Linked DNA regions of Homo sapiens. The protein of the gene in region 1 purifies or fractionates together with the protein of each later gene. This does not show direct contact. Each region holds a gene or a part of one and is shown in the gene's direction. Other genes may lie near its edges.

The links.
Region 2: the proteins of CABIN1 (region 1) and DNM1 purify together in Homo sapiens (affinity purification with western blotting, with the first as the bait; one study listed by BioGRID). This does not show direct contact.

The regions. Positions count from the first base shown.
Region 1 is NC_000022.11:24,017,494-24,021,308, forward strand, and holds part of CABIN1 (calcineurin-binding protein cabin-1), read left to right. Parts: intron 1-3,815. UniProt on the Homo sapiens protein: May be required for replication-independent chromatin assembly. May serve as a negative regulator of T-cell receptor (TCR) signaling via inhibition of calcineurin. Inhibition of activated calcineurin is dependent on both PKC and calcium signals.
Region 2 is NC_000009.12:128,206,064-128,209,878, forward strand, and holds part of DNM1 (dynamin-1), read left to right. Parts: intron 1-3,815. UniProt on the Homo sapiens protein: Catalyzes the hydrolysis of GTP and utilizes this energy to mediate vesicle scission and participates in many forms of endocytosis, such as clathrin-mediated endocytosis or synaptic vesicle endocytosis as well as rapid endocytosis (RE).

The DNA.
Region 1 (3,815 bases):
TCCCCTAGCCCTGTGGCCACTATTCTACTTTCTGTTTCTATGAATTTGACTACTGTAGGTACGTTATATACATGGAATCGTACAATATTTGTCTTTTTATGACTGGCTTATTCGACTTACTGTAATGTCTTCAAGGTTCATCCACGTTGTAGCATATTTCGGAATTGCCTTCTTTTTTGTGACATGTGTCAGGATTACCTTCCTTTTTAAGGCTGAATAATAAATGTTTCATTGTATGTATATACTACATTTTGTTTAGCCATTCATCTGTCATGAACAGTTGGGTTGCTTTCACCATTTTTTTTTTTTTCTTAGCTTCAGCTTAAAGGAGGCCACCTTTCGACTATTGTAAGTAATGCTGTGTCCCTCAGTTGTAAAACGTTATTTATTTATTTAAAATAGTATGGTGCTCTTGTCACCCAGGCTGGAATGCAATGGCGTGATCACAGCTCACTGTAGCCTCAACCTTCTACCTCAACTGCCCTGAGTAGCTGGGACTACAGATGTGTACCACCATGCCCTGGCTAATTTTTAAATTTTTTGTAGAGATGGAGTCTCTCTGTGTTGCCCAGGCTGGTTTTGAACTCCTGGCCTCAAGCAATCCTTTCACCTCGGCTTCCCAAAGTGCTGGGACTAAAGGTGTGAGCCACCATGCCCATCCTGTTTCTCAGTTTTTAAGAGCTGTTTGTATATTAGGGGTATTAGTCCCTTGTCAGTGGTATATGTTGCAAATATTTTCTCCCAATTTGTTAGCTTTTAATTTTTTTTCTGAGTTTTTAAATTTTTTTTTGTCATGCAAAAATTTTTAAATTTTTATGTAGTTAAATGTATCACTCTTTTACTGTTTGTGAATTTTAAATCATATTTGGCCCTTCTCTACTACGTAATACTAAGTGTTAATACAAAGGTTAAAGAGGAATTCACCAGTATCTCCTTTAGTAGTTGTATGGTTTCATTTTTTATCATTTAGATTTCTAATTCATTTGCAAGTTTATTCTTGTGAGTTATCTTTTTCCAACAGTGAATACTGTTCCAGCAGTATTTAATACAAAGTTCATCTTGACTCTAGTGATTTGAGATGCCATCTTTGCCATATTTTTTATTTCCATATGTACTTGAGTCTAATTCTGGACCTCATCTTTTTGTGTACATATGCAGCAGTACCTCACTGTTTCATTATGAAGGCTTTGTACAGTAGGTTTTAATGTCTGTTATACCTATCCCCCCTTACAGTTTTTTTTTCATTGTTTTCCTAGTCTTAAATTTTTGTTTTTCCATATGAATTTTAGTATCAACTTGTCAATATTATCTTGTCAGTATTTGTATTGGGATTGCATTGAATGTATAAATTAACTTGGGAAGAACTGACATCTTTATATTTTTGAATCCTATCCAGGAACAGGGGATGTCATTTCATTTGTTCAAGTTAACTTTAGTGTCTTTTAATAGTGATTTAAACTTTTTCTTGCACAGTTTTAATTAACTTTATTCCTAAGTATTTAATGATCTTGTTGCTATTGCAAATGGGATTTTTCTCTACCATAATGTCTTCTTTTATGGTTTGTATATATGAAGGCTATTGATTTTTATGTATTAATCTTATATTGTGCAACTTCACTGAGTGTTGTTTTTTTTTTTTTTTTTTTTTTTTTTTTGAGAAGGAGTCTCACTCTGTCGCCCAGGCTGGAGTGCAGTGGGGCAATCTTGGCTCACTGCAACCTCCGCCTCCTGAGTTTAAGTGATTCTCCTGCCTCAGCCTCCTGAGTAGCTGGGATTACAGGCATGCGCCACCATGCCCGGCTGATTTTTTGTATTTTTGGTAGAGACAGGGTTTCACCATGTTGGTCAGGCTAGCCTCGAACTCCTGACTTCTTGATCCTCCTGCCTTGGCCTCCCAAAGTGCTGGGATTACAGGCGTGAGCCTGTAATTTTTGTATTTTTGGTAGAGACAGGGTTTCACCGTGTTGGCCAGGATGGTCTCGAACTGCTGACCTCAAGCAATCCACCCACCTCAGCCTCGCAGAGCACTGGGATTACAGGCATGAGCCACCATGCCCCGCCTGCTGAGTTATTATTGAATAAATTTTATCATTGATTTTGGGGTTTTCCAGGTAGTATATCATATTATCTACAATTAGTGATAGCTTTTCTTTACCCTTTTTTTTTTTTTTTTTTTTTTTTGAGACGGAGTTTCGCCCTTGTTGCCCAGGCTGGAGTGCAATGGTGCAATCTTAGCTCACCACAACCTCTGCTTCCTGGGTTCAAGCAATTCTCCTGCTTCACCCTCCCGAGTAGCTGGGATCACAGGCATGCGCCACCATGCCCAGCTAATTTTGTATTTTTAGTAGAGACGGGGTTTCTCCATGTTGGTCAGGCTGGTCTTGAACTCCCGACCTCAGATGATCCACTCACCTCAGCCTCCCAAAGTGCTGGGATTACAGGCGTGAGTCACTGTGCTTGGCCTTTACCCATTTTTATATCTCTAATTGATTTATCTCTTCTAATTTTATTGGCTAATATTGCACAGGTGGATAGTAGCAGAGATAGTGGACATTTTTGCTTTGTTCTTGATATTAATCTCTGAAATTAATGGACATGCCTCTGAAATAAGGTTTGCCCATGAAATAAGATTTTGGCTTTAGGACTAAGGTGTATTTATATATTAAAGTATCTCAATTTCTGTATTTTCCTGAGTATTTTTTATTATGAATAGATATTGAATTTTGTCAGACTTTCCCTTCTGTGGAGATAATCATGTAATTATTTTTCCCTTAGATGATTACATTGTGTTTTCACATGTGATGTGTGTTTTTTTGTTAGTATCTATTTTTTATTTTTTTATTTTTGATACGGGGTCTCACTTTGTCACCCAGGCCGGCATACAGTGGTGCAATTACTGCTTACTGCTGCCTCAACTTCTCAGGCTCAAATGATCCTCCTCCGTCAGCCTCCCAAGTAGCTGGGATTACAGGCATGTGCCACTATACCCAGCTAATTTTAAAATTTTTTTTGTAGAGATGAGGTCTCCCTATGTTGCCCAGACTGGTCTCAAACTCCTGCCTCAGCCTCCCAAAGTGCTGGGATTATAGGCAGATTACAGTCATGAGCCACCATGTCTGTCCGTTAGTATTTCTTTAAATTTCTCCAACATTTTCATTGCATTTCCTTTTATCTGGAAGTTGTTTATCAGGAGATTCTCAAATTTTTAGATAGACACACCTTTCTTCTGTTGGTGGTGATGGTCGTGTTAGTAAATTCTAGTTTTAAGCATTATGATTGGCAAGTGTTGTTTTTAGTATCTTTACTTGATGGAAGGTGTTTTCTTTGTGACATGAGCAGTTTTTGTGTGTGTGTGTGTGTGTGAATGTGCTGTGAGCACTGGAGAAGAATATATCATTTCTGTTATCAAGGTGTGGAGTTTGATATACATCTATATCATCTCCTCTGTTATGTTGTTTAGATCAATCATCTGTCTCCTCATTTTTTCTCCACTTGATTTGTCTTTAAAAAAATTTTTTTTTTTTGAGACAGGGTCTCACTGTGTATCCCAGGCTGGAATGCAGTGGTGTGATCATGGCTCACTGCAGCCTTGAACTCCTGGGTTCAAGTGATCCTCCCACTTCAGTCTGCTCAGTAGCTGGGACTACAGGTGCATATCACCATGCCTGGCTAATTTTTATTTTATTTATTTATTTATTTATTTATTTTAGAGATGGGGGTCTCACTATCTTGCCCAGGGTGGTCTCGGACTCCTGGAGTCAAAGGATCCTCCAACCCCAGCCTCCCAAAGTGCTGGGATTACAGGCATGAGCCAC
Region 2 (3,815 bases), on another chromosome or scaffold:
CAGTGGGTTCCACTGTCTCAGCCTGCCAGCTCCCTCAAGGGCTCCTGACCTCTCCAACAGGGCTCAGTCCCCAGACTGGTGAGCATAGTAACAGCCATTCTGTCTCCTGGGGCTTCCCAGGAGCCAATCCCCAACAGAAAATGCTTCACAGGAAAATGCATCAGGGCTGCCCCAGGCCCACCCGGGCTTCTGGGTGCTCAGGAGGATCCTGCTGTCAACTCTGCAATGGAGGTAGCCTTGCAGCTGCCTGGGATGCTGCTAGAACTTGTCTGGGTCTATACTATTTCTTCACCCCCTTCCCTTTTACAGAAGGGAAAACTGAGGCCAATTCATTCAGTCATTTAGCAAACATTTGTGGAGGGTGCACGATGTCTCAGCACTGGGGATTCTATGGTGGAAAAGACCAAGACTCTGCACTGCAGAGGGAGAAACTCAGAAGACAACTGGAAAATGTGGTGAACGTCAGGGAGGGGAGTGGGGCTGCTCTCCCCAGGGAGGTCAGAGGTCTCCAGGAGGAGGTGGCATCTGAGATGAGAACCAAGGGATGAGAAGCTGTGTAACTTGCCAGGGGCGGGAGAGTTCCAGGCCAAGGGAAAGGTGCAAAGGCCCCGGGGTAGCAAAGAATTTGGTGCCTTTGAAGAACAGAAAGGAGACCCTGTAGCTGGTATTCAGCTAGCAAGGGGGAGACAGGACCTGAGAGATAGGCAGGGGCTAGATCTACAAAGCCCTTAGGCCATGAGGAGTGAGGAGTTTGGGTTTATTTTCTCTCTTGTGGGAAGCTTTTTAGTAGTGGAGTGATGAGCTAATTCTAGCAAGGGTGTGACTTGGGGAGCGGGTGAGGGAAAAGGCAGGAGACTGGTGGGGAGGCTGCTGCAGTGGGCAGGGGGTAGTGGGGGGCCTGGACAAGGGCTTCAGCTGCAACCAGAAGGAGAATGGTGGGTGGGTTTCAGGATATATTTTAGAGGAAGTCCTGCTGGAGGATGAATGTGGAGGGTGAGGAAAGAGGAATCAATGATGACTTCTGGGACTTTGACCTGAGCTCCTGGGTGGGTGTTGGTGCCATTAACAGAGTCGGGAAGAGTAAGGAGGAGCAGACTGGGGGGATGGGGGAAGACCAGGGTTTGGTTCTGAACATATTGAGCCTGAGATGCCTGTTAGACTTCTAAGTGGAAGATGTCAGCTGGCAGTTTGGTGATGCAAGTTGAGAGCTCAGGGGGAAGACGGGCTGGAAGTAAAAATTTGGAAGTCGTTGGTGTAGAGATGGGATTTAAACCCGAGAGTAGATGAGCTCATCCTGGGGGTAAGTGTAGATGGGGGAGTGTTTGTGGACCCAGCACACACCAGCCTTTCATGAACAGATGCCTGGTGCCCTAGGCCAAAGGGGCCTCCTCGCTGTCCCTCCAGCTCCTCTTTGTCACCCCCGCCCCGCTACACCCCCCACCCCAGTGCTCCTCTAGGGCCAAGAGTGGGTTGTCCTAGGGCAGGCCAAGTCTGGTGGGAATGTGGCAGAGGGGCCGAGAGCATGGTGTGGAGTCAGACCTGCCGAGTATGAAGCTCAACTCTGCCACTTACAAGCAGAGAAACCCTGGGCATGTTCCCCAAACCCTGCCCAGCTGCTATTTCCTCATCTGTAAAATGGGGATAATAATAGCACATCCCTTGTGAGATTATGGTGAGTGTTGAAACAATCCCCAGGAAGCACTCGGGGCAGGGCCTGGCATGGAGGACGCGCTGCTTCTATCCCTGCCTGGGCGTAGACAGGCAAGCCCTCTGGGATGGCGTGGGCTGGGAGGTGCACCAGGATGGGGGCACGGGTTGGGGATCTTCTCCATCCAGGGTAGGGTAGGGGTCCTGAGGAGCGACCCTCTGCCCAGAGCCGAAGGAGCAGCCTGGGAGGAAGGGTTTTAGGTTTCCCCGTAACTCTGCCTACCCCCCACCCCCAGGCTTTCTGTCTCCCCCAATGCCCTTGTCCCTTCCTCCCCATTCTTTTTTTTCTTTTTTTTTTCTTTTTTTGAGATGGAGTCTCACTCTGTCACCCAGACTTGGAATGCAATGGCGCGATCTCAGCTCACTGCAACCTCCACCTCCCAAGTTCAAGTGATTCTCCTGCCCTAGCCTCCCAAGTAGCTGGGATTACAGGCATGTACCACCACGCCCGGCTAATTTTTGTATTTTTAATAGAGATGGAGTTTCATCATGTTGTCCAGGCTGGTCTCAACTCCTGACCTCCAGTGATCCACCCACCTCAGCCTCCTAAAGTGCTGGGATTACAAGTGTGAGCCATAGCACTCAGCTCTCTGCTCTGCATTCTATCCCAGCATGGACGTGATGCTGGTCTCTGGACTCTGAGAGCCCTTCTCTTTGTCAAACCTAGCCTTTCCCAGGGGAGACAGCCCCCTCCCCACTATTAAGCTCTGTCTCTTCCTCTGAACACACCAGGATGCATCATAGTGGTCCCATTTCTCAGATTTGGAGATGGAGGCCAAAGTCTATTAGGGGATAAATGAGACATCCTAGGCAGAGTATCGATGACCTGGATGGGGCAGAGGGAACTAATATTTCCTTGGCACTTGCTGTGTGCCAGGCCCTGAGGATACAGTTGTGAGTCAGCCAGACCCATCCTGCTTGGGGAGGCTTGCGGCTGATCGGGGCAGACAGACATGAAATCCACAAAGAGCACGTTTGTCGTGTATTTTGAAGGAGGCTGCTCCTGCGTTGCAAGGAGCCTGACATTGAGGGGAGGGGGGCTTTCTGGGCCATCAGAAGGCCTCCTGAGGAGGTAGCATTTAAGATTGGACCTGAGCAAGACTAGGACGTGGTCAAGCCAAGGTGTGGACTTCCGCAGGTGCAGGGACTGTCCTGAGCAAAGAGTTAGGGGGAAAAGAGCCCAACGGGTTTGAGAACCCGGATGAAGGATGAAGGGCAGTGTGGCTGAGTGAGGAGCAGAGGCCAGAGGTGAGACTAGGAGGGTTGGGGAGGCGGGGCTTGAGGGGCCTGTTAGGGGCCCTTTGACACCCCCCCACCCACCTGGAGAGCTGCCACACTCTGCTCCAGCCTCTGCATGCTCAGAGCACGCAGCTGCCACGTGCTAAGCACACACTGCCTGTGGGCCACATGTGGAGCACACCCCTGGGGCTGGAAACATGGAAATGCACCCATCCACAGCCAGAGGACATCCTCTCCAAACCCACACCCCACCGTGGCCCAGAGGAGCTGGGAGTGAAAGGTGACCCTGGCAGACAGCATCTGATCTCGGCGCCAGGAGAATTGAGTTTCCCAGGCCCTGGCTGGGTCAGAGGGTCGGACCCAGGGAAGGGGGTGCAGGTGGGAGAGTGGAGAGGGTGGGCAGGGCAGGAGTGGAGGAAGTGGGTCATGGACACAGTGCTGTCAGGCGTGGAGAAACGGACGCCCACATGCCATATGTCTATGTATTCCAGTTATAAATCAAGCTGAGGAATTGCTAAATGCAATACATTCTGCCCTCCCACCATAACAAACACACCTTCATCACAACCTGACCAGCTGGGTTTGAATTCAGAATTTCAGACTCCTTGGAGTTCCGTGGTGGATGTGGAGGCGTGGGGACAGGTGTCCCCTCTCCGCAGGCTGCCCCGTCATTTCCCTCTTTATCCCTCCAGGGTTCACTTGTGAACACCCCAGCCCTCATATCCCAGCTCCAGAAAGGACCCACCTTGGGCCTGGGCTGGTCCCCACTTGGGCCTGGGCGGTGGGCTTGGAACTGCTTGAGAGGGAATTCTGGGGCATCTGAGCGTAGCCTACGAGGGGAGCACAGGCTTCAGCTGGGCACCTCCCCT